4 linked regions of the Homo sapiens genome follow. The protein of the gene in region 1 purifies or fractionates together with the protein of each later gene. This does not show direct contact. Each region holds a gene or a part of one and is shown in the gene's direction. Other genes may lie near its edges. The genes, in order: ADCY8, OMA1, PLAA and ANKMY2.

Region 1 (8,184 bases):
TAAAAAGAAACAGAAAAGTGACTGAGTTTAAATCATCTTTCACACCCTTATTTTTCATATCATGAGTCATGAGTCTGAACCGTGGGTTTACTACTTACCAGTTATGAAGTCTGGAAGATTGTGGCAAGTACTTCATGCCCTTCCCAGTTTCTTCACTGTAATTTTGGACTGAAAACATTATCCGCCTTAAAAATGTAGTTTCAAATATGATAGTGCTTATAAAGCACGTAGTCTAGTCTTCTATTCAGTATCCATCTCTGCTTAGCCATGGCATGTTGTCAATGTGCAAAATGCAGGAATGTCAAAACGGGACCCCAGACTCACCATGGTTTGATATTGTTATATATTTTTCCACTTTTTTATTGTCTTCTTCTTTAACACCACTGAGCCTTGGGTTTCTAGAAGAACGGTTCTCAAACCTCAGCCTTGGAATTACCCGAGAGTTTATTAAACCATAGCTTGCTGGGCCCCACTGCCGAGTTTCTGGTTCAGTATGTCTGGCATGGAACTCAAGATGATGCTTTCTACCAGTTCCTGGTAGGAACTGCTGGCCTTAGTACCACACCATGAAGATCACCATTTTTGAACTTGTGTTAAATGAAATAATGCATATAAAGTCCTTTGTCCTGTACTCAGTAAATATTTATTGTGGTTGTGCTGGTAGTAGTTACCATATAATACAGTTCCAGGGTGGTAGAGAGACGCTGAAAGTAAAAGTTCTTGTCTCAATCCAGCACTGCCACTAACCACTAATATGATTTGGGGCCAAATATGTACTTGTTACTTCTGGGCCAGTTTCAGCATCTGCAAAAGGAGACAAAGAAATGTCTAATACCTAAGGTTGTTGAAAGAACGGAAATTATATGAGATAATCCATGGGGCACACAGTAACACCTTTGGCTACTAGATAACATTTATGCAAAACAAGAGTTACACAATTGTTAGGTCTTAATTTAGTATCATGACTACTTTTATTATATCCTAGCATTAAAATTTATCAGAAAATGCCAAGTTTACTTGACTCATTTCCTTAGAAAGAAATGCCTGAAAACTGACACATTTCCTTAGAAAGAAATGCAATCTTCAGAATCTCATCTGCAAATGTCTTACCCCAAAGCTCAAGTTAGTAACAAGGATGAAAAGAAACATCTAAAACCCAGTTTCTACCAAAACATTTAAGTGCATATTGATTAGCACTTCAGCAGAAGAATCAGTGAAGGCAAGGATCTCTTTCACTAGTGAAAACATAATATTGATTTAATACATGGAAGTATTTGTCCCCTTGCATACTGACAGCAGAATAATAAAAATAGAATCCAGAGAAATGCTAAAAGGGGTTGATATGTAACTTAATTATCTTAAAAGAAAATCAACCATGGTACTTTAGAAAACCCTCCTACCAGGTTCATTTTGTCTAGGAGAAAAGGTAAGCTTCCAGTCTTAACTCAGATTCATCTGAGAAAGCGGATGGGGACTTCCATTTCATGGAAGGTCAAACGATCTGTTATTCTCCCAGGTCAATATTATTGAGTTCATATGTATTAACAAAATGCATCTTGGGAATATTTTGTATTTATTCAGCACATTTCTCAAGAGAGTGAAAACATCTTTCACACATTTATTTTTAACATCTTGCACTTGAAATCAATCAAGATATTTATGTGGAAGATGTGGAGAACATGAAGTATCAGAAATGATTTGTTTGTAGTTTCTGGTTTTTCACATGTTCTTTGCAATGAACTATTCTTTCTGTAAGGAGGGATTTAGCAGAATGGGTTAGAAGGATGAGAGGGAGTAGCAGAGCTAATACTAAAAGTAAACTGCATTTTATTTAATTAATGAATTTATTTATTTTTTCTAAGACAGGGTCTCACTTTGTCCTCCAGAATGAAGTGCAGTGGCATGATCTCGGCTCACTATAGCTTCAACTGTCTGGGCTCAAGCGATCTTCCCACCTCAGCCTCTCAAGTAGCTGGGACTACAGGCATGCACCACCACGCCCAGCTAACTTTTGTATTTTTTTGTAGAGATGGTGTTTTGTCATGTTGCCCAGGCTGGTCTCAAACTCCTGAGCTCCAGCAATTCACCAGTCTCGGCTTCCTCAGCATGAGCCACTACAGTGCATTTTTAAAAGCCACTCTAAATTTTTTTTAAAAACTTTTCTGTTTACTTGGATATATTGTTCTTAGCATTCCAAAAGCCAATCAAAATATTAAGCATTCTTTCATTCAAATGAACACTAAAGTAAACTTAGGAAGATGACTTTTGAGCAGAATTGGACAGTAGGAAATTGTTAGTAAGCACCAAATAGTACGTTGAATCTGGAGAATTGCCAATTACTTGAATAGCTGGAGAGAGCATAGGAGAGCTATATTAGAGGAGTGTCAGAAAATGAGCTTTGAAGTGACAGAGCCAGAGAATGAAAGCTTGGAGGCCTTATTCAGAAGGCCTGACAATAGTCTTCTGCAAGCCTTGAGAAGGCATGGAATACACAACAGTAATATGATGACAATGGCATTTTTTAGAATACTCTTAATAACTTACATATTTGCTTTTATAGTGTATATGTTGTACCATGCACTGTTTTGACTACCTTACACAAATCAACTCGTAGAATAATCACAATAATAGTCAGAGATAGGTGTTATTATGTTTCCCATATTATGGGTAAGAAAATGGACTGATAGAAAGGCTAAGTAATTTGCCCAAGATCTCTCAGCTGGCAAGTGGCAGAGCTACGGTTTGAATCTAGGAGATCTAGCAATGAAGTCCATGTTTGTAACCACCTTACCTTGCTAGTCTACCCAGACCACACTATAACGCAATAAGTAGTATGATTGAGTTAGACAGTTACGAGGACAGAAAAACTCTTCCCCAGAAGAATTTACCATGTGAAATTTCCATGAATCAAGTTTGATCCTCAAGGCCCTGATGTCATATGTTATTTTGCTAAAAAAGAAGCCTGAGTCATGAGCCACAGTGGCTGACAATTGTGCAGCCATGAGTCACTTCACTTGTGAGTGAGCCCAGCCAGCTGCCAGCCTGCACATGTCCACAGCTTTGTTCTTTGCTCCTTATAATATACATGTTATAGGGGAAATTGTACCCTACAGTGGTTTTCCCAAAGGACCCTCAGTGCAGCCCTATGGACTTATCAGAATCACCCTTGAGAAGAATATAGACAAGTTGGAGAAACAAGTTACAAATACATGAAGATTGAAATGATAGGACAGGTTCCAAGACGAAGAAAGAACTGTTTTTGCATGGTGATTTGGATAATGATTGCCACTGGGGTTCAGAAACATTTGCAGCACTTGTTTTTCCAATATAATCAACACGACTGAAAAAAAAAATCACTGTTTTGTAAAGTTTGCTGGGATCAGGCTGACAATCATAAGAAAAGCCAAAAGATGTGCTTAGGTGTGGCTCAGAAGGGCTGTATTTTATCAGAGGCAGCAGTGTCTCTTGGGACGATGTCCGTGATACTGTGCTCATGAATTTATGCTTCTATTTTCTTTTATTCTTTCTACTTTTTAGGAAGACAAGTATTGTCCCTGAGGACATGTCCTAATAATACCCTTGTGTAACCCTGGTGTTGGTTTTGTACAGGTCAAAAAAATATAGCCTTTGCAGGCAACATCAGGAGTGTGTAATGACCTATGCCTTCTACACACAGGAGGATTCACATTTCCAAAGCCACGCTGGACTGTCTCAACGGTGACTATAACGTGGAAGAGGGCCATGGTAAAGAGAGGAATGAATTCCTGAGGAAGCATAATATCGAAACTTACTTAATTAAGCAGCCTGAGGACAGTCTGCTGTCCTTGCCTGAAGATATCGTCAAGGAGTCAGTGAGCTCCTCAGACCGGAGAAACAGTGGGGCCACATTCACTGAAGGATCCTGGAGCCCTGAACTGCCCTTTGATAATATCGTGGGGAAACAGAATGTAAGTCCTCTCTTCCTCCTTCTGCTTGGCCATGAATGCATGCTCGTGTGCATCTCCAATCCAGACACCTCAGAGAAAACTGATTCATCTTTAACCTTTTCTCCAATGAACACCATAATTGCAAATGATCAAACTATCTCTCTGTCTCCTCAGGACAGAATTAACCTCGTATGCAATTTCAGGAAATGCCAGAAATGCCAGAGGGTTCCTAACACCCTCTCTCTCTCTCTTTTTTTTTTTTTGTAACCTAGCTAAAAATAAATATTATGTGAAGCTGAATTGTAATTTTACCAAAAAAAAAAAAAAACCACTCATGTTGGAAAAAATAAACCCTCTGTTATTAAACTAAAGGGGAGGATCAAGTACATGGGAATGCCCCTTTTTCGGTAGCTGGCCATCATCAGTTCTGTGTCACCCTCTGAGATTCAAAATCAGGGGGGCACTGCAGATTTGGAAATAGGAAAGGAGCACCAAGTGATGCCTAGAGTTAGGGAGTTCAGGAGGAGCATGCAATTTCAAAGCCACCCACATGATTCTATTTTTATATAGCATGGATTTGCATCTTCTATGAAGGACAGGGCTACTAAGTCAGTACATAAGGAGTAGATCACCAATAACCAAAATTCTTTTTAAATTATTTATTCAAATATTGAAATCACAGTAAACCCAATGAGATGCTCAGACTCCAAGAGGCACTTAGAGAACTGAGGCTGAGCCAGGTCGAGAACCAAGGTGGACACAGAGATTCTGTTCTCCCAGAATGCTTGCTTGGAGCCATGGCAAAATTACCTGCTCTAATATGGATTTTCCCTTTAACCTCTTAGACACAGCACATTTAGTTGAATTCACATAAGTTCAATGATGTGACTGTACTATACATTTTTAGAGAAAGAAATAAAAATAGCCAATATATAACACTTATCTGACAGTTATCTGACAGTTTCTGATAAGATCCTCGACCAAGCAGAAGCTGAGAGTACCATGAAGTACCCAGCCAATAGTGTCTGGAGTTTTATGAAGACATATAAGGGTTAATTTTTAAATTCCATAGACCTCAACATTTCTCATTAACTTATAGATAAGAAAAATCTGTCTGCCTAAAAAAATTTTAAATGGAAAGGTTAAAATGCTGAAAGTCTCCCCTCTTTTTTCTGCATTTGAAAGTTTGATGGGGCACTCTGAGACTAGGCTGTCTTTGGTTTCTTTCTGGATCTGTGGGGGAAAAACTATGAGAAAATGCATGGGCCAGATTCCACTGGGAAAAGCTGCAGGTTGAACCTAGGCTGCATGCCTTGCAAGAGTTGACCCTTAGGTCTTCGACAGCTCTTTTGTGAGTGTTTAATTTCCCCCAAAAATTATTATGCACACAAAAGTCATAACTGATTGCAATGCCTAGGTTCTTTCCATCTCTGAGTTGGTGTGCATGGTACAGTTTGCTGTTTTATAAAATAATGGTGTTATATACTTCCTGGAGTGGGTGCATGACCAGCTGACAGTGCCCTCTCTGCTGCTTTTGCCTATTGTTAGCTTGGGTCTGTATGCTGATTATTTAAAGAGAAAGAAATGCATGCCTCATCCTGAATACCTCAGCATAAAGTTCTCTCTCTCAGTTTTAGTTTTTGTTTTGTCTTTATTTTTGAAAAATCTCTCTCCAGTTATGCTGATTGTAGGAATTAAGATAATTCCTTAATGTTCTAATCTGTATTGTACATGAACTTGCTACTAATAACTGAGAGCCAAGAAGAGGGAGGTGGAGGTTCTTGGTTTTATTCTATAGTTGATTGATGTGGTTAAACTGTATAGGAATGCTTGAAATATTTATTTGCTGATTTCCTAAAGATATTTCCTGATGTCACCAAATACCTATTATAAGAGATGTCATTATTAGCTAGAGATTGTTAGTGTTGTTTAACCATACCGTGTATTTTTTTAATGCCCAAGTTTTGCCTGGATGTAACCCATCTGTGCCATCTTTAGCACGAAAAATCTGAATTCATTTTGATGCCTTCAGACTGAAGAGCAAGTGAATGTGTGCTGATATTCATGAATAACCGCGTGCCACCAATAATATTTTGGAAATTACTGAGCCAATTAAAACCGTCACAAGTATTCAATGTTTGTACTTATGCCTAACTCTAGAAGTCAGTGAGCCATATGTGCAATTCAGAGACATAATTTGTCCCTGGAAGAGATCAAGACTGGTCTGGCTGAGCCTATGCTTTGCCAAAACACCCAGTCAATTCCACGGAAGCCCCGACCATCTGAGTGTTTGCATAACACAGATAAAGCATGCTAATGCTTCACTGGGGGTATTCCAGCTAAATTGGCCAGATGTTTTGGCTTCTATTCATTCATAATATGTGCTTAGAAATATGTTTAATGGCATCAAATTGCTGTGTCATATTCTGTGCTATGTAGATAGCAGATGTTCAGATAGTTACATCCTCATGTATTCATTCATTCAATAAGGATTAATTGAGCATCTATTACAAGCCAACTACTGCTAGTAAAAAAAAAAAAAAAAAAAAAGAGGAGGGATGGGGAAAAAAAATCACTTTAGAGACAAAGTCAGCCAGTGGTTTATATTCTTAATGAAGATAGAAATTATATCCGTTTCACTTACCACAATTTAGCCCACAATTAGAACAATACCTGGCAAATCACAGGGCTTGATTAAAGTTTGTTGAATAAGTGAATTAAATGATAGATATGGGTAGTGAGGGAGAGGAATCAGTCAAGTTTGAATTCTAGATTTTTTGCTTGGAACTGCGTCGATGATAGAACTTCCAACTAAAATAAGCAGTACTGGAATAGGAGATTGTGTGAGGAAGACTAGGAATTCTCTTTGGGACATGTGGAGCTTGAAGTGTCTGGGAAAAATCCAGGGAGAGTGATCACACATTTCTGAAACTCAGGCATAAAAGAACTGTGCAAGGGATGTGAATTTGGTATTCATAGTCACGAGAATTTTGGTGTTAGTAGAAGACATGGCAGTGAAAGAGATCACTGTTGAGAATCTGTAAAATTAAGGAACAAGAAGACACAAGCAGACCTTGAGGAGCACAAGTTGGAAGGTGAAAGATTCGTATTCCTTGGCAGAGACAGAGAAGAAACAGTCAAAGTTGTCAGAAGAGAACTAGGGAATGTGGTGTCACAGAAGCCTAGAGTATGGCATTTTAAGAAGGAAGGGGCCATCAGCAAAGTCAAATGGAGACAAGAGGCCCAGGAAGATGAAGACTGATAGCTGCCTATTGGAACTGGATTGAAGGACATCATTGGCAAGAGGCAGATCTGGTGAGATGGTAGAGTCAGAAGCCAGGTCATCATAATTGGTAAGAGGTGGCTCTGGGTTTCCAAGAACTCCAGTTCCACCCCTGTTCCCTTCCCTCTACCCATTTCAGTAGTTTGTAAATGGCTTGGAGGAGCAATGAAAATCACTAATAATTATCTGTGGCCCCTTATGTGAGTCTTCCAGTTTCTGTCTGCCTGACCATACTCCCTTGGTTTTGATGCTGTGTCTTGTCTGCCCCTGTATCTGTATCCATTTGGGTTAAAATTGTTGGTTTGACCCCATTCTGGTATCCAAGTTTTGCTCTTGGACATCCTGAACACCCATGCCCTTTTATATCCCTGGCCCTTGACAAGTGCAGATGTTCTGCCTCTTAATTTGATGCCTTGGTTTCCTGAACCCTGACTCAGATCCCAGTGAGACTCCCCATGCCTTGAGTTTCCAGGTGAAATGAAAGTAAGGAAACTAGAAGGCAAGAAGTTTATGATCACAGGTGGACTATTGGAACTTAAGATTTAAAAAGTAGAAGGAGATGATTGAAGTAGATCAAAAGTGAAAAATTTCACATATGGGGGAGAATATCCAGGAAGTTCAAGGCTAGATTATTAAATGAGTTATCAACATGGACATTGAATCTCTCAGTTGAAAGACAACATTGCAAATGAAAGGAAGATAAGAACAGGATCCTTATCATAAAGGTTATATTTTCCTTTTCTGCTGCATGCTCTGAGTAAAATCTATATCTGGGCTTGAGCTATTGTTCATTCTGTTATTTAACAGATACTCAAGTGTACTACATACTGAGGATCCAGTAATGAATGAATCCTGTCCTCCAGGAGCTTATGTTTCTTTTCTTTTCTCCTTTTTTTTTTTTATTGAGATGGAATTTCACTCTGTCGCCCAGGCTGGAGTGCAATGGCACGATCTCGGCTCACTGCAACCTCCGCC
Region 2 (8,184 bases), on another chromosome or scaffold:
ATACAGTATGTAGTATTTAATAACTGAATTTTATTATCCCCTAATAGTCTTACTTAGGTTCAGTTTTGTCTCCCCAACTAGATTATAACCTCCATGAGAGCAGGACTATATTCTGTGCTGCATAACTCTCATGGCCCCTAGCCAATGAAAACCTTACTAGCTACTCCAGTATGAATTGTGAAATGACTTCTAGGCTTAAATTATTTAACAATTTTTCAGCTTGGTTCAAAAAAGTAAAAACAAAGTATCTTGTTAATAATGTCAAACTATTATATATCAGCCTGGACTTTACTAATTTAAAATTGGTTGTATTTCAAAAAGGGTTAACTCAAAGTTAATGTTTTACTTAGCATGCCCTTTATTAACATTATACATTAACAGTGCAAGGGCAGGATGTATGAATTACATAAAAAATAAATTTGAGTAATTTTCAAATGGTTTGATATATAGATAATACTATTAAAACTGGTAGTCCTGGAGCATCTTTCTAGATAATATCGTATTAGCTTAGGTTGAAGTTTACATATTTTTTTCCCCAACTTTTATATGAAGATTTTGAAACATGCAGAAAAATTTAAGGAACACATATGTAACTATCACTGAGATACAATGATTGCTGATATTTTGTTTATTGACTTTATGTCCTTTGTGTGTGTACCTTTGCTGTACAATTTGAAAGTGAGTTTTATTTATCATGAACAGATCCTTCAGCAAGTATCTCAGGAATAAAATAGTCAGATAACCACAATATTATCACCTAAGAAAATAATAATTACCTAAAACAACTTGAAATTCAATTCATATTTAGATTCCCTCAATCTGGGTTTTTTTGTTTTTTGTTTTTGGTTTTTTTTTTTTTTTTTTTTTTTTTTTGACAGGTTCTCATTCTGTTGCCCACGCCGGAGTGTAGTGGCACAATTTTGGCTCACTGCAGTCTCTTGCCTCCCAGGTTCAAGTGATTCTCCTGCCTCAGCCTCCCAAGTAGCTGGGTTTACAGGCAAGCACCACTCTTTGTAATCCCTTCCCCTGCTGCTTTTTTCCTACAACTCCTCAAGCAGTCACTCATCTCTCTGTCACTATGGATTAGTTTGCATTTTTTGCAGTTTATATTATAGAGATGTAATCAGAGTATGTACTTTCTTGTGTTTTTCCTGTTTTTTTTTTTTTTTTTTTTTTTTTTTTTTTTTTTTTTTTGAGACAGAGTCTCACTCTGTTGCCCAGGCTGGAATGCAGTGGCGTCATCTCGGCTCACTGCAACCTCCGCCTCCCGGGTTCAAGCGATTCTCCTGCCTCAGCCTCCTGAGTAGCTGGGATTACAGGCAAGTGCCACCACACCTGCCTAATTTTTGTATTTTTAGTAGAGACGGGGTTTCACGCCTCGAATGCCTGACCTCAAATGATCCACCTGCCTCGGCCTCCCAAAGTGCTGGGATTACAGGCGTGAGCCACCATGCCCAGCTTTTTTTGTGTTTTTCAATGAATTTATACAGTTCACCTAAGATGTCAAGTTTAAGATTTTATCTTTCATTGATTTTAAGAAGTTATGTGCCTTGTAGTTTTTTTCCTTTGTGTTTCTTTTGTGTAGGATTTGTTAAACTTTTTGAATTTGTGGTTTTATAATTTTCATCAAGTTTGGAAAACTTTTGGCCATTATTTCAAGTGTTTTTTTTTTCTGTCTACACCTCCTCCCCGCTTTTTGGGGACTTCAGTTAGATGAATATTAGGCCACTTGAAGTTATTGCATACCTCATTGATGCCCTGTGCCTTTTTTTATTATTGTATTTTTTCTCTGTATTTCATTTTAGATGGTTTCTATTGATACGTCTTCAAAGTCACAAATCTTTATTTCTACAATGTTAATCTGCTGTTAGTCTCATCTAGTATGTTTTTCATCTTAGTTCTTACAGTTTTCTTGTCTAAAAGTTTAGGTCTTTTAAAGAAATATATTACATATCTCTACATAACATGCTCATATTTTCCTTTAGCTTCTTAAACATGTGCAGTATAGTTACAATAACTAATATCCTTATCTACTAATGCTGTTATTTGTTTATTTAGGAGTTAGTTTCCACTGATTGATATTTCTTCTAATTGTGGATCACATATCTTGCTGCTTGCATGCTTGGTGATTTTTAATTATAAATTGCACCTTGTTAAGTGTTAAATAGTTTTGTGTCCTAATACCTGTTTAGATTTTTTTTTTTTCCTGGGATGCAGTTGTTGCTTGGAAGCATTTAATCTTTTTGGGGGTTGCTTTTAATATTTGTTAGGTGGGGCCAGAGCAGCTTTCGGTCTCAGACTAATCTTTCTCTAATGTTGAGGCAAAACCCTTCTGAGTACTCTACCCACGAATGATAAGGTTTTCCACTTTGAATGGTGGGGAGGGGATAGGCAGTATACCATGCCCTGTGTGAGCCCTGTATATTATTCCCTGCAATCTTTTCAGGTGGCCCTTTCCCAGCTCCAGGGAATTTTCTTACACATATGCCCAGACAGGACTCAGCTGAATATGGGAGGGGGATTCTCTGCAGAACTCTAGAGTTATTTCTCTGTGCAGCTCTTGTCTTCTCTTGTCCTCTGTCCTGTGAGCTCTAGCAACCTTGGTTTACTTGACCTCCCAGCTTTATCTCTTCGATTTAGGGGAACCACTGGGCTCCACCTAGGTTTACCCTGTCTGCATTGTGGCCTGGAAGCACTCTCCAGGCAATAAGCTAGGACAGTTGTAGGGCTCTGTTTCCCATCTGTTAGGGATCACTGTTCTTCATTGCGTAATGTCCAGTGCATTTTATAAGTTAGATTTTACTATTCTGTATCACATGCTTCCTTCCAGTTATTGCAAACTGATAAAGTTTTACTGTTGTTTTTATCTAATCCACTTTATTGCTCAAATCATTTGCCATTAAAATACAAATGGCTCTTCCCTAACTAAAAATTAAAAATGAAATGAAAAAAATTCAAGCTTCTAAAGTAAACGTTGCATAGTAAATATCGTGGTATATATACTCTGGTTTATCTTGCTGAAAGGCGTTGCTCTAGGGGTGATGAGTTGAAACCCAAGGTAATTTAGCCTGAGATGTGTTAGAAGAACAACTGACACGCCTATTTAATAAGTGTTATAGTCCCAGTTTGGTAAGTAAATATTTTCCACAGATATTTATAGTTTTTTTTTTGTTTCAGGTAGTCAAGTGAAAAAATGAGCTTCATCTGTGGATTGCAGTCTGCTGCTAGAAACCATGTTTTCTTCCGATTTAATTCACTGTCTAACTGGAGAAAATGTAACACATTAGCATCCACCTCACGGGGCTGTCATCAAGTACAAGTTAACCATATAGTAAATAAGTATCAGGGACTGGGAGTAAATCAGTGTGACAGGTGGAGTTTTCTGCCTGGAAACTTTCATTTTTATAGTACTTTTAACAACAAAAGAACAGGAGGCCTCTCAAGTACCAAAAGTAAGGAAATTTGGAGGATTACCAGCAAATGTACTGTATGGAATGATGCTTTTTCAAGACAGCTGCTAATAAAAGAAGTTACAGCAGTCCCTAGTCTGTCAGTATTGCATCCTCTAAGCCCTGCTTCCATAAGAGCTATTAGGAATTTCCATACTTCTCCACGGTTTCAAGCTGCTCCGGTTCCTCTCTTGTTGATGATTCTTAAACCAGTACAGAAGTTATTTGCAATCATTGTAGGCAGGTAAAATGCTTTTTTAGAATAAAAACTTTTATATTAACTTTTTGCATTAATATTTTGTGCTAACGTATTAACTTTTAGAAATTAATTTTTTTATTTATAAAACTGTACTTTTAAAGAAACCTTGCCAGATCCCCTGTCTCCCCCCATTTAGCTCAAAGTGAAGTTTCTAAACAGTAGGTCCTGCCCAATTTTGTTCTGTATGATTTAATAATCTTGAAACAATTTCCTGCATACTAATTTATGGTATAGAAATATCTCTTTAAAAAGTTATTCTTACATTTTGTATAGGCATTAAAAAAATCTTATATTTATGACTACAAAATCTTAGGATATATGGATCAGAAGTGCTGGTTATCACTTATGTATAAGAAGAGTACTTACAAACATTTCTTTTTAATTTGTGGAATTTAAGGCAGCAAATCATAAAATTGAGGAACTTTGCTTATATAAGGGTGGGCTCACTCCTAGTTAACTCTTAAGTCATTAATGCTTCTTTTCTTTCTATTCTGTTCCCAACAAATCTTTGTTTTTTTCCTTGGTGATCCTTTATAATAATATTTTCACAGCTTGTAGTGCTTTAACCCTTTTTCTCTTGTTTGTTTTATGAAGATGGAAGAAAGCTAATCACTGTTTCTTCATAAAGCTTTCTTGTGTTTGATGACTGTGAAGTCCCTTCTAGCCTTCTTACTACCACATGAACCAAACCAGTTTGCTTTTGATCAAAAACCAAGAACTTCTATTTGTAACTTATTGTGTTTTTCATGATTTGGTGTTGGCACCCAAAAGCGATACAGCTGTATTGACTATTGGTTGAAGTAATACGCTCATCCCAGGTTCTTCGGATGCTCTTTCTGATTTCTGCTATGTCCTCATCCTTTTAAATTATTTATTTGTAACTTTCTTGTTTTTGTTACTATTGTTGATCACCTAAAATTTTTCATTTAGAATATGTCTTTCATACATTTTAAATAAAGGATAATGTCATGTAAAGTTTTAAATAGGAAATAAGTATACTCGATAGTTTGATTTATGTCCCTTTAAATGGACACACTTTGTGTAAAGGCATTGGGGTGTGTCACTTCACAAAGAGAACTTTAAGAATTTGTAAAATAAATTTTTGTCAAGAGAATGATGTATATATGGTAAATTTTTGTTGTGATTTTACAGATCAACTCATAAGGAAAATTTTTGTCCCAGTATTGAAAACATTGCTTGTTGTCAAAATGTTTCTGAACACTGCTAAGTGGCAGAGAGTATTGTTGCCTGGTAGAAATTGGACCTTCTCAGATGTTATCTATAAAATCTCCCACTTTCTTATGAATACCTAGGATCTTGTTATCTCTCCTTTTTCACGTTGTAAAGAGGATAGTGGAGTTTCTGCTACTGAGCACTATTTATTTCCAAAATGAATGCTGAGGCAGTTTCCCTTGTACCTTGTGGAATCACTGGCAAATTGTGTTGGAGGTCTGAGGAGCAGTGGGAAAAGTAGTGGTTCCAGGTATAGATTTATTGTACTGTAACCTCTTACATAATTATTTAGGCATTTATCCCTATTAAGTGGCTAAGTGGTCAGACTCTGGAATGTCATTGCCTTCATTGCTTGGTTTTCCTTTTATTACCTCAGTGGCCATGGACAAGTTACCTAACAATTTTATCTTCTGTAACAGGGTTATTATGAAGATTAAATGAGATGGTATATATATATATACAGAGAGAGAGAGAGAGAGAGAGAATTTTGCATGTACTAGATAGTAATAAATATTAACCAGTGGTAGTTATAGTAAACTAGCATCTCATTTAGTGTTTATCCTTAAAATAGCTGAAGAAGAAAATTTCGATGAGTATTAGAATTTTTTAACTGTAACTTTACATCATTGATTATTTTTTCATCATTTAGCTAAGAATTTTATTAATTGGAAAAGCGATGTATTCAGCGAAATACATCATACAAATTCAGGTATTTGAGGACGTAAAATTCTAGTGTATGCATTTGAGCTTTAGTGATATGTGCTGGAATGATTTTCAGAACTTTGAATTTTTCTTTTTGCTTTAGGGGCATAAGGAAATGGTGGCAGGCACTTCCTCCTAACAAGAAGGAAGTAGTTAAAGAAAATATAAGGAAGAATAAATGGAAGCTATTCCTTGGTTTGAGTAGTTTTGGATTGCTCTTTGTGGTGTTTTATTTTACTCACCTGGAAGTAAGTCCAATCACAGGAAGGAGCAAGCTACTATTATTGGGGAAAGAACAGTTCAGACTTTTATCGGAACTGGAATATGAAGCAGTAAGTAGTAAGAGTTGTTTTTAATTAGACTGCTTAATATAACACTCAAAGTAGGAAAGTATCTTAAATGTGAAAGATATGTTGTTTTTTAATTTTAGTCTTTGATATGAAATTAGCATTTTTTTTTCCCGAAGGCCTCAGACCTTTCACACTTAGTATTCCTACTGCCTACATTGCTTTTCCTAGCATTCACCCAGCTAACTCCTGCTCAGCACATTTCACCTTAAATGTCACTTTTCTCAGGAAAACCTTCCTTGATTATCCAGACTGGGTTAGGCAGGGTGACTGGATCAGGCCCTAGGAGGTATCCTTCATACCGACTGAATTATGAACCAGCTCATTTGTAGTTGCGCCCATTGCTTGGCTTTACTGGGGTTAGGTCTCCTAGGCTTTTTTTCTCTGCATACTGTACTTTTCCTTCAAAGCACTCATGAGAGTAACATAATTATTTGCATAATTATTTTTTTGATTGTCTTTCTTGTTAGACTAAGCTTCATGGGGGCAGGGATCTTACCTGTTTTGTTTATGGTTTTAAATACTAACACAGTATGTAAGAGTAGAGCTTAGTATATATTTATTGAATAAATAGATTTATAGTCAGAATTCTTATACCTTGAAAATCAAGTAATATAAGATTTTTTTCCCAAACATCAGTTTTAGCAATTTATTATATTTTTTGAATCCAAATTTAAGTTATAATTTAGAAGTCTTACCTCTTTGGAAAGTATAGTAACTCAGGTAGTTAAACATTTTGTACCCTAGTGAGTTTCTTAGGGACAGAGGTCATTTTCTCTCCAGTTCATAGCACATACACATGTTATGTGCCCTGTGGCTCAATTAATATTTTTCGAATTCATGTCCAGTAGCCTCACTTGACAGCTTTGGCATGGCTGAATCTTTTTTTTTTTTTTTTTTTTGAGACAGAGACTTGCTCTGTCACCCAGGCTGTACTGCAGTGGTGCCATCTTGGCTCACTGCAACCTCCACCTTACAGGTTCAAATTATTCTCCTGCCTCAGCCTCCCGAGTAGCTGGGACTACAGGCGTGCGCCACCACGCCTGGCCAATTTTTGTATTTTTAGTAGAGATGGGGTTTCATCCGTGTTGGCCAGGATGGTCTTGATCTCCTGACCTCGTGATCTGCCCACCTCCTAAAGTGCTGGGATTACAGGCATGAGCCACCATGCCCAGCCGCTTGTTGATTCTTAAGTGAAAAAAAGCATACACTTTATGAAAGTTAAAGTAATATTTCAGAACATTTTTAATTTTCTCAGTACACTTGAAAGAGCTCTCATGAATATAACTTCAGAAAAAGTATCTTCTGTGGTGGCTAGTCTTAATCAGCATCTTTTAGAGACAGTGATAATGCTCATTAGTTCTGAGAATTCAGTAATTTCCTTTCAATCTGTGAGTAAAACACCTTAAAATTAATGAAATGTCTATTTTGGTAGTTTAACTTTCTTATTAGGTATAGGGTGTTTTTCTGTTCAATGCATTGTGAATTTAATTTTCTTTTGTATTTTACTTAGATGAAATCTTAAGTTCTCCAGGCTCTCCTTTTCTTTTCTTTTTGAGATGGGATCTCCCTCTGTCACCCAGGTTGGTGTTGGAGTGCAGTGGCGAGATCTCAGCTCACTGCAACCTCCACCTCCTAGACTCAAGCGATCCTCCCACTTCAGCCTCCCATGTAGCTGGGAACACAGGTGCATGCCACCACGCCTGGCTAATTTTTTGTGTTTTCGGTAGAGACGGGGTTTCACCATGTTGCCCAGGCTGGTCTTGAACTTCTGAGCTGAGGTGATCCTCCTGCCTTGGCCTCCCCTAGTTCTGGGATTACAGGCGTGAGCCATCTTGCCCTGGCCTAGGCAGTGTTTTCTAAAATGTTTAGGAAAGTAGAAATAATACTTAAGTATTCGTTTGTAGTTTAATCGAAAAGAATGAAATTTTGATGTCAATCTATTCATAAAAAAACTTAGTATTAGAATTTATTCCTTTGTAAGAAACCACATTGTCTTTGCATGAATAATTCAGATTTGAGAAATTTCAGTGCTTAATATATGCAGATTTTTATATAATTAAAACTTAAAATGTTCAATAATAAGTAGCCATATAACTTTCCATGAAGCAGAGTAAGCATTTTGTAGTGCTCTTTTAAAATAAGAAGTAATTTTTAATCTTTCAGTGGATGGAAGAATTTAAAAATGATATGC
Region 3 (8,184 bases), on another chromosome or scaffold:
TAGTTTTAGTAGAGATGGGGTTTCACCATGTTGTCCAGGCTGGTCTCAAACTCCTGACCTCTGGTGATCCATGTTGTCCAGGCTGGTCTATAACTCCTAAACTCTGGTGATCTGCCTGCCTCGGCCTTCCAAAGTGGTGGGATTACAGGCATGAGCCACCGTGCCCAGCCCTACATCTTTCAATCTGTCAGTTTCTTTCTTTTTTTCTTGTTGCTTAAAACCAGATTATTTTAGCTGTAGAATTTCCCACAATCTCAGTTTTACTGGTTAAAGCCTTGTTTCCTTTAATGTGTTCTTCAGTCACCTATATTTCTTGTAAGCTGTTAAATAGATCTAGTAGCTTTATCAGGTTCAGATTCAAGTTTTTGGCAACAGTATAGGTGGTATTCTGTATTTTCTATTGTATCACATCAGGAAGCACACAATATCTTTTTGTGATATTAAGATTGATCAGTGGGTTCAAGTGTTGTATCTTTCTTTCATTATAAAGTTCCCATCAGCCTTTCACATAATGGTAATTTTTAGCAGCTACTGATAATCATTGCCTAGATTCAATATTTTATTAAGGTTTACAAAATGATTGTACTGTAATTCTAATATTATTTCTGCATTTGATCGCCAAGACTTTTCTGTATAGATCTTTCCACATCAACTGGTTACCATGTGGGACTTCTATACAGAAAAGACAGAATAAATGCTTTCCTTGACCCTTCTCCCAATTTATTTACTGGTTTGCAGAAGGAGTTGTTTCCTGAATTTTTTTTTTTTTTTTCAGTTCTCAAATTGTTCCATATCTGGCCATTGGAAACCTCTTTAAATTGGCTCCTGTCACCTTTTTATAAGACCTTCAGTAGTCTTCCTTGCTTTATTACAGAATGTTCTAGGTTCAGTTTGTACACTTCTTGCTCTAGACCTCAAACCAGCACTTTTGCCAAGAAGTCCTGTTTTTTTTTTTCTTTTACTGGGAAATGGTATTTTATCCAATTATATCATACTGATTTGTGGAAGAATGTAAAGAGCACCCAAGTTACAACTATTAAGATCTCAGACTGGGCATGGTGGTGCATGCCTGTAATCCCAGCACTTTGGGAGGCCGAGGTGGGTGGATCACTTGAAGTCAGGAGTTCACGACCAGCCTGACTGACATGGTGAAACCCTGTCTCTACTAAATACAAAAAAATTAGCCGGGCATGGTGGCGCATGCATGTAATCCAAGCTACGTGGGAGGTTGAGGCAGGAGAATCACTTGTGCCTCGGAAGCGGAGGTTGCAGTGAGCCAAGATTGCACCATTGCACTCCAGCCTGGGCAACAAGAGCAAAACTCCCATCTCAAAAAAAAAAAAAAAAATCTCAGTGATGTAACATATGAGTATTTCTCATTAACCCTACATGTTCAACATGGATTAATAAAGGGACTCTGTTCATCAGATTTTCTCAGGGACCCAGGCTAATGGGGCTTTCTCTCCACACATGCTTCAGTAGTTGTTGGAGCAGTCAAAGGGCAACATGGTTAATAAGGCACTGGTTGGCTGGGCGAAGTGGCTCATGCCTGTAATCCCAGCACTTGGGAGGCCAAGGCGGGCGGATCATAAGGTCAGGAGATCGAGACCATCCTAGCTAACACGGTGAAACCCCATCTCTACTAAAATACAAAAAAATTAGCTGGGCGTGGTGGCGGGCGCCTGTGGTCCCAGCCACTCGGGAGGCTGAGGCAGGAGAATGGCGTGAACCCGGGAGGCAGAGCTTGCGGTGAGCCGAGATCACACAGCTGCACTCCAGCCTGGGCGACAGAGCGAGACTCTGTCTCAAAAAAAAAAAAAAAATAATAATAATAATAAGGCACTGGCTTTTAAAAGCATGTGCCTTCCTTGAATGTCACAGTAGTAGAGAATTAAAAAAATCAATTTTAAAAAAACACCAAAAACATGTGTGTGACTGAAAGTGTCAGCTACCGTTTTGTCTGGTGACTAATGCAAGTATCATGGCTATGCCTAACTTCAAATGGAGGAGGAAAGTACCATTCTCCCATGTGTCCAAAAAGGGAGAGTTACCACAGCATGCTTTCTGGTCATCAACGATTCAGCTTCATCAAACAATCCAAAAGTCTCCTCTGAGTGATGCTAAGTATTCTAAACATCAGAGAGGTGATGCTTATAAGTAAGCTGTCAACCATACCCAATATACAATTATGGAAAAGGAATAGGATAATCAGAGCAAACACTCATTCAGAAGAGGAAGCAGTGCAAGACAACAGTTTTTGATCTAGAGCCATTCTGAAATCCAAATAAGTAGCTGTCTCAAGGATCCTCAGCTCAGGGTAGAGAGACTTTTGTGATTGCTTCCTTCTGGTCTAGGAAAAAGGTTTCCCAATCCAAGGTTCTTTATGGCTGTGCTTCGACCGCCAATGATACTCTTCTTTCCTAAGATAATTTTTCTTTTTTTTTCTTTTATCTTTTGAGAGAGGGTCTCACTTTCTTGGTCATACCAGAATGCAGTGCTGCTCTCACAGCTCACTGCAGCCTTGGCCTCCCATGCTCAAGCAATTCTCTTACTGGGACGACAGGCGCGTGACACCATGTCTGACTAATTTAAAATTTTTGTTTTAGAGCTGGAGTCTCACTATATTGCCCCAGGCTGGTCTCAAACTCCTGAGCTCAGTTCAAAATGCTAGGATTACAGGCATGAGCCACTCCACCTGGCTAATTTTTCTTTTCTTTCTTTTTTTTTAAAGACAGAATCTTGCTGTGTCACCCAGGCGTGAAGTGCAGTGGTATATGATCACAGCTCACTGCAACCTCTGTGCCCTGGGCTCAAGCAATCCTCCCACCTCAGCCTTCCAAGTAGCTGGGAACACAGGCGCATACCGCCACACCCAGCTATTTTTTTGTATTTTTAGTAGAGATGAGGTCTCTCCACATTGCCCAGGCCGGTCTCTAACTCCTGAGCTCAAGCAATCCGCCTGCCTTGGCCTCCCAAAGTGCAGGGATTACAGGTGTGAGCCACTGTGCCTGGCATAATTTTTCATATTTGTAATTTTTAGCCTGCATAATTTCACATCAAGAAAGTAAGACATTTAATTAACCACTTCATTACTTTTGGACATTGAGCTTGGCTGCAGGTTTTATGGTCACTGTCATGAAAGCAGCCTTAAATATTTATATAAACAGTGTTTCAAAATCATTTACATTATCTCCCTATTATGATTTGTTAAAGCTGGAAGGATTGTGTAGCTCACTTAAGTTCCGCTCCCTCGTTTCACAGACAAGGAATCTGATTTTGAGTAATATTTCTGCAGTTACGTGGCTTGTAAGTGGCACAGCTAGGCCTTGCGCCCAGGCAGTCTGGCACCAGAGTCTGCTCTTGACCACTGTACTCTTATGCGTCTCTGCTGAATTGAGCCTTAGTTAGCTAAGATACTGCCACTTCAAAGAGTGTTTTTAAAATTGGAATGCTTTAGTAACTTTCAATGTTGAGCATTTTTCTGTATGAAAATGTGTTATCCAATGATGTTTTTTCCTTAGTTTGTAGTCTATCATCTGGAAAATTTGGGACATTACTTAGTGGTTCATGGGACACCACTGCTAAAGTCTGGCTGAATGACAAGTGCATGATGACCTTGCAGGTACAGTAGTTCTGTGTAAATATTCTAAAGAATAATTAAGTTGAATGATTCTGTGGCAACTTAAATTGATACTCATTTTACTCACAGGGTCATACAGCTGCAGTGTGGGCGGTAAAGATCTTACCTGAACAGGGCTTAATGTTGACTGGATCAGCAGACAAGACTGTTAAACTGTGGAAGGCTGGAAGATGTGAGAGGACTTTTTCAGGTAAGATCAGGGTAGACAAGTTTTATAATATCATTGCTTTTTATTTGCTCAGATTTTTTTTCTCAGAAGTTTACAAGCATGAAAATATTTGAAAAACATTAGTATATTTAAGCTATTAATTTGAGTTAATGTAATTTTTCTGATGAGTTAATATCTAATACATTTAAAAAGATAATGAAACCTCTCATAAAACAGCCAAATGTAGACTGATAAATAGCTGTCTGATAAGCTATATATAATATGCATATGTGCTTCTGCATATATGTATGTAATTTTTGGTATATAGTTATATTTTTGGTTGTCATTTTAATACTTTTAGCCTGAAACTTCTAAACATAAGCCTTACTGATGGTCAGTCAGCAGTGTTATCTTCATATATGGAAGAAATCATTATTAGTGTCTTTATATTGAAGCACATTGTTTATAACGAATTTCAAGCTTTGTTTATGTTGTGGTTTATGGTGAGTATTCTTTTTAAACCCCAGCTATTAAATAATGCCAATACTGATGCATCTGCTATCTAATAGTAATATCATTGATTTATTTGTAGGGTACTTAAGTATTTACTGTTAATTTTAATTGGTGTTGTTTTTCCTTTTTGAATTTTTTCCTTAAAAGTTGGTAACTACCCTAGATAATATGCAAGAAGTCCCTTTGTACAGATAAAAGTATCTTTTGGCTGGGTGCAGTGACTCACAACTGTAATCCCAGCCTTTCGGGAGGCTGAGGTGGGTGGATCACTTGGGGCCATGAGTTCGAGATCAGCCTGGCCAACATGGTGAAACCCTGTCTCTATTAGAAATACAAAAAAATTCGCCAGGAGTGGTGATGCACACCTGTAATCCCAGCTATTCGGGAGGCTGAGGCACAAGAATCTCTTGAACCCTGGAGGCACAGGTTGCAGTGAGCAGAGGTAGTGCCAGTGCACTCCAGCTTGGGCCACAAAGTGAGACTCCATCTCAAAAAAAAAAAGAAAAACAAAAAAAGTATCTTTTGATGGAAAGTGGATGATGACTAAACATCCTTCTGTTTCTGCTTCAGTATATAGTCTATATATATGTATCAAGTCATTATTAATCTGTGATAGCTACTCTTAAGTCAACAGATACTGAACATAGGAAATCTGACTTCACAAGCTTCAGAGAATGTTTTGTTCTTAAATTTATGGGCTACTCTTTGTTATATATTTCTTTTATATTTGAATATTATATATTTTATAAATTACTCTTGTTGGGGAAGAAAAATTAAAAATGAATTTTCAGGTGAAAACAAATTATTGGGGTCAAAATACTATTTCTGGAGGTTTTTGGAGAAGGTAGGATGAATGTAAAATAACTTCTGAAGACTGGTGATAAAAAAATATTGCTAAACCTTAAATACAAATTTTGGTTATCAGGCTTTCAACAAAAAAAAAGATTTCTCTAACTTGAAAATTAATTTTTACTACTCACTGATATGTTTTATAATGTTAGTAAAATGTATAGAGCCATCAGCCAAATTATCAGTTTTATTGATTTGCATTATTGTTTTTTAATGCAGGGCATGAAGACTGTGTAAGAGGTTTGGCAATTTTGAGTGAAACAGAATTTCTTTCCTGTGCAAATGATGCTAGTATTAGAAGGTGGCAAATCACTGGCGAGTGTCTTGAAGTATATTATGGACATACAAATTATATTTATAGCATATCCGTTTTTCCAAATTGTAGAGGTAAGATTATTTTATGCTATTTATTTAATGTTTTGTATTGAGCATTATTCCATCCCATTTGTGAGATGGAGGGAGGAGAGCTGATTACTTAATTTACTATCTATGACTTGAATAATTTAGTAAATTTATTTCATTAAGTATCTTTCTCCTGTTTACAAAGAAGAAAATTGTATGGCCATCTTTATATTAATTCAGATTTATGTTGTGCTGTAAAAAGTTCTTGGGTATCTGAAGAAACACTTTGTAAGATGTGACATGAATAAAAAATGTGATTTTGAAGTTGTATATGTTGTAAGTGACAAACATATGAAATTTAAAACTGTAATTTTGAAAGTCTCTGGGTTTCAAAAAGTCAGTGTATCTAGAAAGATGGTATGTATAAATGTACTTAATTTTATTCAAACTAATACTTCCTATATTCATTAATTTTAGACTTTGTGACAACAGCAGAGGACAGATCTCTGAGAATCTGGAAACATGGGGAATGTGCTCAAACTATCCGACTTCCAGCTCAGTCTATATGGTGCTGCTGTGTGCTCGACAATGGTGACATTGTGGTTGGTGCGAGGTATTTATATTCTAGTCAATCATTAAATGTTATATGTCTAGGCCTTCAGTAGGAACTAGAGTGTACAGAGATAAGCCATAAGGAATTTCACGTGACTTGAGGAGACTATATGGACACTTCAATTACTAAACAAAACAGTAGTAGATATTATAGCTTTCATACTAAGGGATGCATGATATACCAGTATTGTACTGCAATTGTGCAGTCAATGATGCATGATATACCAGTATTGTACTGCAATTGTGCAGTCAAGATATTGACTACAAAAGAAGTTAGAGAAGGTAGAGATTGGTGTGGGAAAACTTTCTGTAGAAGAAGAAATTTGAACTGGATTTTGAAAGATTATGAGTGAGAAAAGATACGCAAATTTTTGTCAAAGCTAAGAGTATAAGTTTCCTTCATGAGAATGAATGCAGCATGCATAGGAAGTGAAGGAAAATGGTGGAGTACTAATGCTGAGATAATAGGTACAATGGGGCTTAACTGTGGAGAACCTTTAGTGCTTTCATGCCAGGCATTTTTTAGATTCATTGCCTGGGGTTGAAGGGTTGTAGTTCTTGAGCAAGAAATAGGATTGAAGCAGAACTTATGAATTACTAAATATGTAGATTGGATTTAACTGCTGGTGACAATGGACAGGAAAGTAAATTAGAAAGCAAGTACAGAAGGAGTGTGAAGTTATAAGACATTGGCCCCACAATGCTAATGGGTAGGAAATAAGTAAATGAGATAATCCAGAAGGAAAACAATCAGAAAAAGTATGAAAGAAAAGGATAAAGCTTCAAACTGTTAGTGATTGGAAATCTTCATTAATAAAAATGGAGAAGTGGGAGAATTGGTTGGGTACAGAAGGTGATGACCGTGGCCTTAGACTTCCTGAGGTCTGCAGTGGTGGTGAGCCACACTCATGCCAGTGGATCATGGTCATTTGAACTGGAGCTTAGTATAAGAACTGAGGCTAAGATAAAGATTTCGCAAAGCTTCCAAAAGCAAAGCATAGAACACCATTCTCTGAGGGAAGAAATACAGGGGAGGAACAGAAGACTAAGAACTAAGTTTTATGATATACCATTAGTAGAGAAAAAGAAGTTAGTAGGTTAAACAGAACAAAGGAATTCAAATGTTGAAATTTCTGGGAGACAGAAAAGGAGAGATTTTGGAGGGAGATTGTCATCAGTGTCAAAAGTGTTTGAGGAGTCAAAGAATGGAAAGTTTGAAAAGCATTTGGATTTGGTTTGAAAGATGTTATTAGTGACTTTTGGCATCAATCACATTTTGAATAGAAAATGATAGAAAAAAAGGCAAATAAGAGGAAATAAAGGGTTGGAGGAGATGGACGAAGGATCATAGACTACTCTATAATGCTACTCTAGCATTGAAAGCAATAAGAAGGCCAGCTGCTGTGGCTCACACTTGTAATCCCAGCACTTTGGTAGGTCCAGGTGGGAGGATCGCTTGAGCTCAGGAGTTCGAGACTATCCTGGGTGAGCTACCGAGACCCTGTCTCCATACAAAAAAAATATTTAATTAGCTGGGCATGGTGGCATGCATTTGTAGTCCCAGCTGCTCAGGAGACTGAGGTGGGAGGATTGCTTGGGCCCGGGAATTTGAGGTTGCAGTGAGCTGTGATTGCCGCCCCTGCACTCCAGCCTAGGTGACAGAGTTGGACCCTGTCTCAAAGAAAAAGAGAAGAAAAAGAAGGTGACAGCTATAAGGGATAGAGGGTCTAATAAAGTGGGTGTTTTATTTTTTGGCTGGGACAGAGGCTGATTTATAGGCTTAGTTTTTTTCCCTCCTAAGCATATGAAGAAAAACCAATAGAACGAGTGATGTACATGTTTGTGGACGAATAAGTTAGAAACAGGTTTCCTGTAGAATGGGCCAGGATTAATACAGTTGGAAGTGTCTAATTTGCTTCTCCTATCTCAGAATTTCGAATTAAGAAATCATGGAGATAAAGTAATTTTTCTGAGAAAAGAGGTTAAGGACGGCCATCTAATCCAAACATTAGGCCATTTTTTTTCCTTGATTGAAGTTACATTGCTAGTTACTGGCATAGTAAAGGATGACCATATTTGT
Region 4 (8,184 bases), on another chromosome or scaffold:
CTCAACAGGTGCTGATGAGCTGAGCCCACCCGATCTGATCTCAACTATTCTAAGTCAGTCACAGCTATATCTATCAATGATGTGTTCTTTGCCTGGAATTTGGGGATTTGGGTTAGAGTTTAGATTGTTGTACTGCATGGTTCTTGCTGACCTATTTGGCATTTCAGTCTTTCAGTTCTTCCTGTCTCTAGGTAATTTCTCCCTGCCTTTGATGGCTCTGGGATTCAATTAAGCAAACATGCAAGTTCTAGCTGTGTGCCAGGTACTGTGCTGGGCAAAAAGGAGACAAAGGATCAATTCACAATCCACCAGGGACAAAAATTCTTTTAGGCAGGACAGAGCTAGTACATGTCCTCTCTCTCTCTCGCTCTCGCTGTCTCTTTCTCTCTCTCTCTCGTTTGTTTGAGACAGGATCTCACTCTTCACCCAGGCTGGAGTTGCAGCTCTCTGCAGCCTCCACCTCCCTAGTGGCTGGGACTACAGGTGCGAGCCACCATGCCCGGCTACTTTAGAAAGATTTTTTTTTTTTTTTTGTAGAGATGGGGTGGTGGGGGTCTCCCTATGTTGCCCAGGCTGCTCTCGAACTCCTGGGCTCAAGTGATCCTCCTGCCTCGGCCTCCCTAAGTGCTGGGATTACAGGCATGAGCCACTGGGCCTGGCCCATCATGTGATCTCTTAAAAGTGAAAAATAGTGAGCAGTTTTATAAATTGAGTCTTTGAGAGGGGAGAAGGGATTCCTTGGATACATTCTCAGGTGTCCATCAGTATTTATTTTGAAGATTATATAAACCTGAATTAATGTGCATTTATTCTGGTTAGTGCTGTGATATTTCTGGGCTCACACGGTGCATCAAGTTGCATGAGTGCACTGATGCTTTCATCGCTTTCATTGGACCATGCCAATGAGAAAAGAACTGATGTGGACCTAGTATGTGATGCATTCTTGTCAAATGAAGGTCTGTGGGACATCACTTGCACTCATAAAGAAAAGTAATGGGAGATATGAGAAAAACAACCATAGCCAACGTTTATTGACTGTTATTGCAAGCCACACATAATTTTAAGTACTTTACATATATTAATGCATTTAATTTGGATGAGCTAGGAATTAATTTTAAGCTATGACAGTATGAGAGACAGCATGGGATAGTGGTTAACCATGCAGGTCTGGTTTGAAATTCTAACTCATTTACTGGTGATGTGGCCTTTGGGCAAGTGACTTTTCCTGAGCCTCAAGTCCTCTGTGTGAAAAATAGGAATAATAATAATACCCACCTCACAACGTTGTTATGGGGATGAAAGTAGTTAGTATAGTTAAAGCATTCGAAATACTGCTTGTGTTTGTGATAAATATAGTAATCTTCACTTTATAGGCAAGGCAACTGAGGAACTGGGAAGTTAGGAAACTTAGTGTCAAACAGGTAAGTGGCAGAAAGTGGCAGAGCAGAGGTATCACAGGGCCCATAGGTAATAAACAGGCTGTACCTAAAAACAAACTAAACAAAACATGAAACAGTACCATAGCAGTCCATACAATATTCACTTTGAGAGGTCATTTAGTTCTAGCAAAACAACATCTGTCAAGTTAACTCAGTTTTAAATGTTACTGATTTTGTAGTTCTGTGTGCATTAAATTTAAAGTAAATTTTTATTTTATAGTTGAAGAAAGGCCATAAGCAAAGTTTATATTTGTGCCAAAAAGAGGCATTTTTTTTAAAGTGGGTGAAGTGAGTTTTTTTTTTTTTCTTTCATACGTTTTTCAACTTTGAAAAACTCTAGATGAGACAATAAGTTCTAGTACTTTGAACTAACAACTTTTCAGCAAAGTCTAGCCTGGCATCTTGGTCAATCTGAAATAAACTCGGCAAATATTTAAGTGATTCCCATCTGCCAGCCACTGCTCTCCAGAAAGACAGACTCTAAGTGGGGCTTTTTATTTATTAGAATGCCAAGAAGTTCCAGATGAAAATGAAAATCTGTTTCCAACATACCCATTTAAATCATAGTTAATGACAGCATTCATTTAACAGTATGTAAGAGGAAATTGAAATCACTGAACTGTGTTTAACTGGCTTATATGACTTGTAGAGTTACCCATTCTTCTAAGCTTTGATACCTTTTTCATTAATCTCAGAGCAAGCACTATTATGAAATAAATTAAACCTTTTTTAAGGCTATGAGCTAGATAATTTTCACATTACTTCTCTTATTTAGTACCTGAAATTCCTGGGCTTACTGTTGCTAACAAGAAAGTATTATACTTCCTTTTTTTTTTTCATATCTGTGTAAAGGAGCTATGAAACAAGTTTGGATAATAAGGCTTTTTCTTACCAACTATTGAGATACAATAAATTGCACATATTACAGGTAGTACACACTTTTTAATCAGTTTTGATTTAAACATACATCTGTGAAACCATCAGTAAGATCAACATAATGAACATCTTCATCACCCCCTAAAAAGTCCTTATGCCTCTTTGTGATCTGTCACTAACTTCACCCCCATCTGCAGGCAACCACTAACAGATCTCTGCCTCTGTTGATTAGATTTCTCTATTCTAGAATTTTATATTAGTAGAATCATACAATAAGTATCCTTTTTTTGAGGGGGGGCTGGCTTCTTTCATTCAACATTATGATTTTGGGGTTCATATTTATTATGTGTACCAATAGTATGTAGCTTATTTTCTTCTTTTATTTCCAGTGGAAGGATATACTACTATTTGTGCATCCATTCCCATTGATGCCCAATTGTTGTTTCCAATTTGGGACTATTGAAATAAGATCCTGTTCTAAGGTCCTGTGTCGTTAATAATACTTCTGGTGTCTTTATGGTTGAGAAACATTCAAGTCTGCTTATAACCAATTATAGTACAGAGTTCAAAGAAAAAATTAAAATATATGGTTACCATTAGTTGGATGGCTGGACAGGTTATGCAACCTATATGGGCTTCATTGTCTTCATTTTCACAGCAACAGCTCTTTTAGATACTCCCAATTTTATACAGTGCTCTGTAATACTAATTTAAGATCATTTTTTTACAAAGTCTAAAAATAGATATGAGTAGGAGACCTTTTAGAAACATCGCACAAATTCACGATTTCAAAATGCATGTTATAATTAGAAGTCTCCACTATGTGTGTGTGTGTGTGTGTCTGTGTGTGAGACAGGGTCTCACCCTGTCACCCAGGCTGGAATGCAATGGTGCGCTCTCGGCTCACTGCAACCTCTGCCTCCCAAGTTCAAGCAATTCTCCTGCCTCAGCCTACTGAGTAGCTGGGATTACAGGCGTGCACCACCGCGCCCGGCTAATTTTTGTCTTTTTAGTAGAGATGGGGTTTCACTTTTAAAATATATTTATAGCTTTATATCTATGATTATATCAAAATCTATATCCATATGTTCTTGTTTTAAAATTAAGGCACTTTAAACATTTTTACATGATTTTACTTATACGTAAACACTATAACAACTAACAAAGCCAAATAGATTTCTAAATCCTTAACTTGATTATATATTCCTTAAAATATCCGTTTTCGTGGCTTCCAATAAATAATGATTGCAATCCAGCTGGACATAGTGGCTCATGCCTGTAGAGTGACCCCTCTGCACTTTGGGAGGATCCAAGAGGATCACTTGGACCCAGGAGTTTGCCACCAGCCTGGGTCTCAATATAGTGAGACCCCGTTGTTACAAAAAATGTAAAAATTAGCTGGGTGCGGTGGCGTGCACCTGTAGTCCTAGCACCTCAAGAGTCTGAGGCAGGAGGATTGCTTGAACCCAGGAATTCAAGGCTGCAGTGAGCCATGATCATGCCACTGCACTCCAGCTTGGGCGATGGAGGAAGGCCCTGTATCTATAAAAAATTAAAACAATAATAATGAATAACGATTGAAATCTATACGTGTTTGAATCTCATGGTTGTGTGATGAATTGCTGAAAACAGAATGTTTGTTTCTCCTGTTCTGTTTGTTTTGGCTGCATCTTCTTGTCTTTGGTAGAGACCCGTGTTCCCGATCTAGATATTAGAAATGTTACAATGAATTATATTGTGCTGCTCTGAATACAAAATAAAAAGAAGATCTAATAAAGGCTTATATGTGCTCCACATTAGGACACTCCTCAGATAACTGTGGGATGGATATTGTTATCCTTATTTCATAGATAAGGAAACTGAGAGTTTTACAGGTCTTTTTATTTACTTTTATTTATTTATTTACTTATTTTTTTGAGACAGAGTCTCGCTCTTGTCGCCCAAGCTGGAGTGCAGTGGCGCGATCTTGACTCACTGCAACCTCCTCCTCCTGGGTTCAAGCAATTCTCCTGTCTCAACCTCCTGAGTAGCTAGGACTACGAGCACGCACCACTACACCTGGCTAATTTTTGTATTTTTTTTTTTAGTAGAGATGGGGTTTCACCATGTTGGCCAGGCTGGTCTCAAACTCCTGACCTCAGGTGATCCATCCGCCTTGGCCTCCCAAAGTGCTGTGATTACAGGTGTGAGCCACCATGCCTGGCCAAGTTTTGCAGGTCTTGTTCCACTTTATAGTATTCCTGAAAAAGCTATAATGTAGTAGAAGAGAGAGCAGTAACACTAAGAATATCATTCTCTTTTGAGACAGGGTCTCACTTTATTGCCTAGGCTGGATTACAGTGGCATGATCATAGCTCACTGCAGCCTCAACTTCCTGGGCTCAAGCAATCCTCCCACCTCAGCCTCCTGAGTAGCTGGGACTACAGGTCCATGCCACCACACCTTGCTAATTTTTTAGAAAATTTTTTGTAGAGATGGGGTCTCACTATGTTGTCCATGCTGGGAAAATATTATGTACATAATCTTTTCTCTCCTAAAATGCTTGTTCATCCAGATAAAGTGATCAATTCCACCCTAATGAGGCAGGTTATGCTGTATTTTCTTCTTTGGTTTGAGCAGTTGGAGGAATTCTCTAAAGGGAAATAAATCACTAATTATTACTTTAATTAGTTTAGGTCTGTTGTTTCTTATCTCCAATGAAGGTAAATGTTGGCTCCTTGCACATCCCTTCTTATAGTACTCTATCTTCCACCCCCAGCAGTTTGTTAAATCAGATTTAACATATTTATTTCCCAGAATAAAGCAATTAATCTTTTACACTTACTTGTAAAATATTATTTAAGTCTACTATGGACAGTAGGAATGACATAAAGTAAAAATCCTTCTGTGTGAGCCATGTGTTTCACATTTCCATGCTATTCTGGACCTTCTATAATTTCCGACTAATGTCATTACATTGTGAACACCGAATTGGAAATCATCACAGTTTTTCCTCTTGGAGTGTTTTGCTCATCCATGTTCCAAATCTATTTTTACCCTCTAGAAGCCCAATCTGTTTCAGATTATTTTTCTCATTCCAGCCCCTGCATTTCAAAAGGCTAACCTTAGTGTGATTGTGGGTACGTGTACATGTAGGATATAATAAGAAATATCTATTTGGTCTCTGCCACTGGCTCCTAACACAGAGCTCCTAAAACCCTTATAATCTCCTGAACAATGGGGTGCTAGGTGCATCTATTGTTCTAATATTTGGTCTTTGACCCTGGTACCTGACACAGAGTTTCTAATCCCTTGGAATTTCCTGGGCGTTAGAAATGTCTTTTGTTCTAATGAGGCGACTGTTGGATAGCTTCAGGATGGGGGCTGGTCATGAGAAAGTCCAAGCCATGATTAGAAGGTTGAATTTTTCAACTCCACCCCTCCCCGCATCTTCAGGAAAGGGAGAGGAGCTGAAGACTGACTTAATAATAGGTCACACCTATGTAATCAAGCTTGCATAAATATTACTGAACTACAGGTTGCAGAGAGCTTCCAGATTGCTGAACTCGTGGAAGTTCTTGGAAGAATGAGTGCCTGGAAAGAGCATGGAATCTCTGTGCCAAGTGCCACATACCTTGCTCTTTGCCCCTCTTCCATCTGGCTGTTCATCTTTGTCCTTTGTAATATTATTTGTAATTGATGGGTAAATGTAAGTAGTGTTTCCCTGAGTTCTGTGAGCTGTCCTAGCAAATTATGGAACCTGAGGAGGGGATCATGGGAACCCTGATTTATAGCCAGTCAGAAGTACAGGGGCTTATGATTGGCATCTGAAGTGGGGACGGTCTTGTGGACTGAGCCCTTGACCTGTAAGATCTGACTAACTTTAGATAAACAATGTTAGAAATGAGTTAAATTATAGGATACCCCATTGGTGTCCAATGGAGAATTGCTTGGTGTTTATGGGGGAAACCCCATATATCTGGTGTCAGAAGTGAAGGATTGAGACTATTGAGTGAGAGTTAAGCAGGAGAGAACAGTTTGTTTTCCATTATACATGCATCATCTTTAAAATATATTGTTCCCTTACAGAATATGTTAACTTAGATTGTTGGCTATTTGGCAAACACCTTAGAGAATTATCAGCCTGTTCTCTAATGAGAGCCAAATGTTTATGATCTTAATCCCCATTCTACTCTTCCCATGTAGCAGGTTTTGACATGCTTACAATCACTATAGTATTCTCCCTTTCTTGCAAAAACATCTCTTGGGCAGATAGAAAAAGAAAATAACTTTGGTTCTCAGTAGAGAATGGGATTTGGATGAAGCATCTTCCTCAAGAGAAACTGGGGTGCGGGGTTTTTGTTCTGGTTTTATTCTTCTATAAAGATTTTTGAGAAAGTCTCTGATGAGAAGACACAGATACGAATAAGGTTTCATGTAGAACTGGCTCGCATGCTCACACACACAAGAGCTTTGCCCTTGCATAGCGATTCAGCCAGTGATACTAACTGCTTTCAGATGGAATACAGGGTCAGAAAAATGCATTATTTATAAAAAAAATAGCTGCTATCATACTCCAGGGACGTGTAGATCATTCACTTGACATTTTCCCAACAGAGCTACTTCTCTATCTAGGAGATGTTTCTGTTTTTTCTCTGTTGGTGAGGGGAACTCAGGTGACTTGCTTAAGAAGTGGGTCAGAGAGAAAAAAGCATGCTAATCTTTATTTTGCATTTCACCTTTAACTCTAGAAGGCTAGCAGAGTTTAGCACAGTCTTGCACTACAAGTCTAAATTTAAAGAGAGGAAATAACCTGATTGGGAGACTTACCTATTCTTTTATGTTCTTTTATAGGAGAGGCTTATCTTAGCCTTTCTCCCTCAGCACATTCAATTTCATTCTTCTCTTCCCAGTAAAACCAGAAATTTCTTGGCAAAATGTGTGGCTGGCTTGTACTAATGATAATAGCAACATTCTCTCCTGCAAGTATGCTTCTGTCATTATGCCTTATAGAAGACTGGAAAAACCTGACAACTTTGGCCCAATTATAGCTTCTTTCCAAATTTACAGAGGAGTGACCTTAAGGTTTACATTAGTTGACTTTCAGGGTGGTGAGTACTGATCATAGAGCACTGTAATGTAGTACTAGGCATTGAAGATGTGTTTCACCTAAGTATTTCCAAACCAAGCACTCTATTATAAATATGTCATCAATTCACAAGATGTGGTGCTGACAAATTATATAAATACTGACTGCATTTTGAATTCCAAGTATTACATTGACTGGAATTTAAGCTTCAGATGGTGATTTGGATTAGATACCCTTTAAGATTTTTTTTCAGTATTAAGTCTTATGCTTTGTGGTTATTGTATTACCGCCAAAAGGAAAATGTGGCCAATGTAATATACTTTAAGGTCAGTGAAAATAAAAACAAGATGGAGCTATTTTTAGTTTCTGTAAATCTATTCTACTGGACAATTACTTTGTAAAATAAATAGTATGTGATTGGATGTTTCATTTCTTAGCAACCTACACTGACTAGATGTACTCTTACAGATAACTCCTTAAGGTTTATTTCCTTGATGTTAGATTTTTCTCTTATTCTAGTGACGAATAACCTTACTTTTCATCTTTTTTTTTTTTTTAGGTACTGTCCAAGAAGCTGGAACATTATTATCCAGCAAGAATGTTCGTGTCAACTGTTTGGACGAGGTAAGATTTTAGAAGTTTAATAAAGGATTTTACTTCCTATAAGAAGAGATAATATATCCTTTTTTTTTTTTTTTTTTTTTTTTTTTTTGAGATGGAGTGTTGCTCTTTCGCCCAGGCTGGAATGCAGTGGCACAATTTTGGCTCACTGCAACCTCCGCCTTCTTGTTTCAAGTGATT

What was found.
Region 2: the proteins of ADCY8 (region 1) and OMA1 purify together in Homo sapiens (affinity purification with mass spectrometry; one large-scale study listed by BioGRID and IntAct). This does not show direct contact.
Region 3: the proteins of ADCY8 (region 1) and PLAA purify together in Homo sapiens (affinity purification with mass spectrometry; one large-scale study listed by BioGRID and IntAct). This does not show direct contact.
Region 4: the proteins of ADCY8 (region 1) and ANKMY2 purify together in Homo sapiens (affinity purification with mass spectrometry; one large-scale study listed by BioGRID and IntAct). This does not show direct contact.

Annotation. Positions count from the first base shown.
Region 1 is NC_000008.11:130,899,535-130,907,718, reverse strand, and holds part of ADCY8 (adenylate cyclase type 8), read left to right. Parts: intron 1-739; exon of another isoform or gene 740-804; intron 805-3,676; coding exon 3,677-3,947; intron 3,948-8,184.
Region 2 is NC_000001.11:58,534,304-58,542,487, reverse strand, and holds part of OMA1 (metalloendopeptidase OMA1, mitochondrial precursor), read left to right. Parts: intron 1-3,177; 5' UTR 3,178-3,193; coding exon 3,194-3,693; intron 3,694-5,746; coding exon 5,747-5,975; intron 5,976-8,156; coding exon 8,157-8,184. UniProt on the Homo sapiens protein: Metalloprotease that is part of the quality control system in the inner membrane of mitochondria. Activated in response to various mitochondrial stress, leading to the proteolytic cleavage of target proteins, such as OPA1, UQCC3 and DELE1.
Region 3 is NC_000009.12:26,923,746-26,931,929, reverse strand, and holds part of PLAA (phospholipase A-2-activating protein), read left to right. Parts: intron 1-3,521; coding exon 3,522-3,622; intron 3,623-3,709; coding exon 3,710-3,830; intron 3,831-5,369; coding exon 5,370-5,537; intron 5,538-5,969; coding exon 5,970-6,105; intron 6,106-8,184. UniProt on the Homo sapiens protein: Plays a role in protein ubiquitination, sorting and degradation through its association with VCP. Involved in ubiquitin-mediated membrane proteins trafficking to late endosomes in an ESCRT-dependent manner, and hence plays a role in synaptic vesicle recycling.
Region 4 is NC_000007.14:16,636,214-16,644,397, reverse strand, and holds part of ANKMY2 (ankyrin repeat and MYND domain-containing protein 2), read left to right. Parts: intron 1-7,942; coding exon 7,943-8,007; intron 8,008-8,184. UniProt on the Homo sapiens protein: May be involved in the trafficking of signaling proteins to the cilia.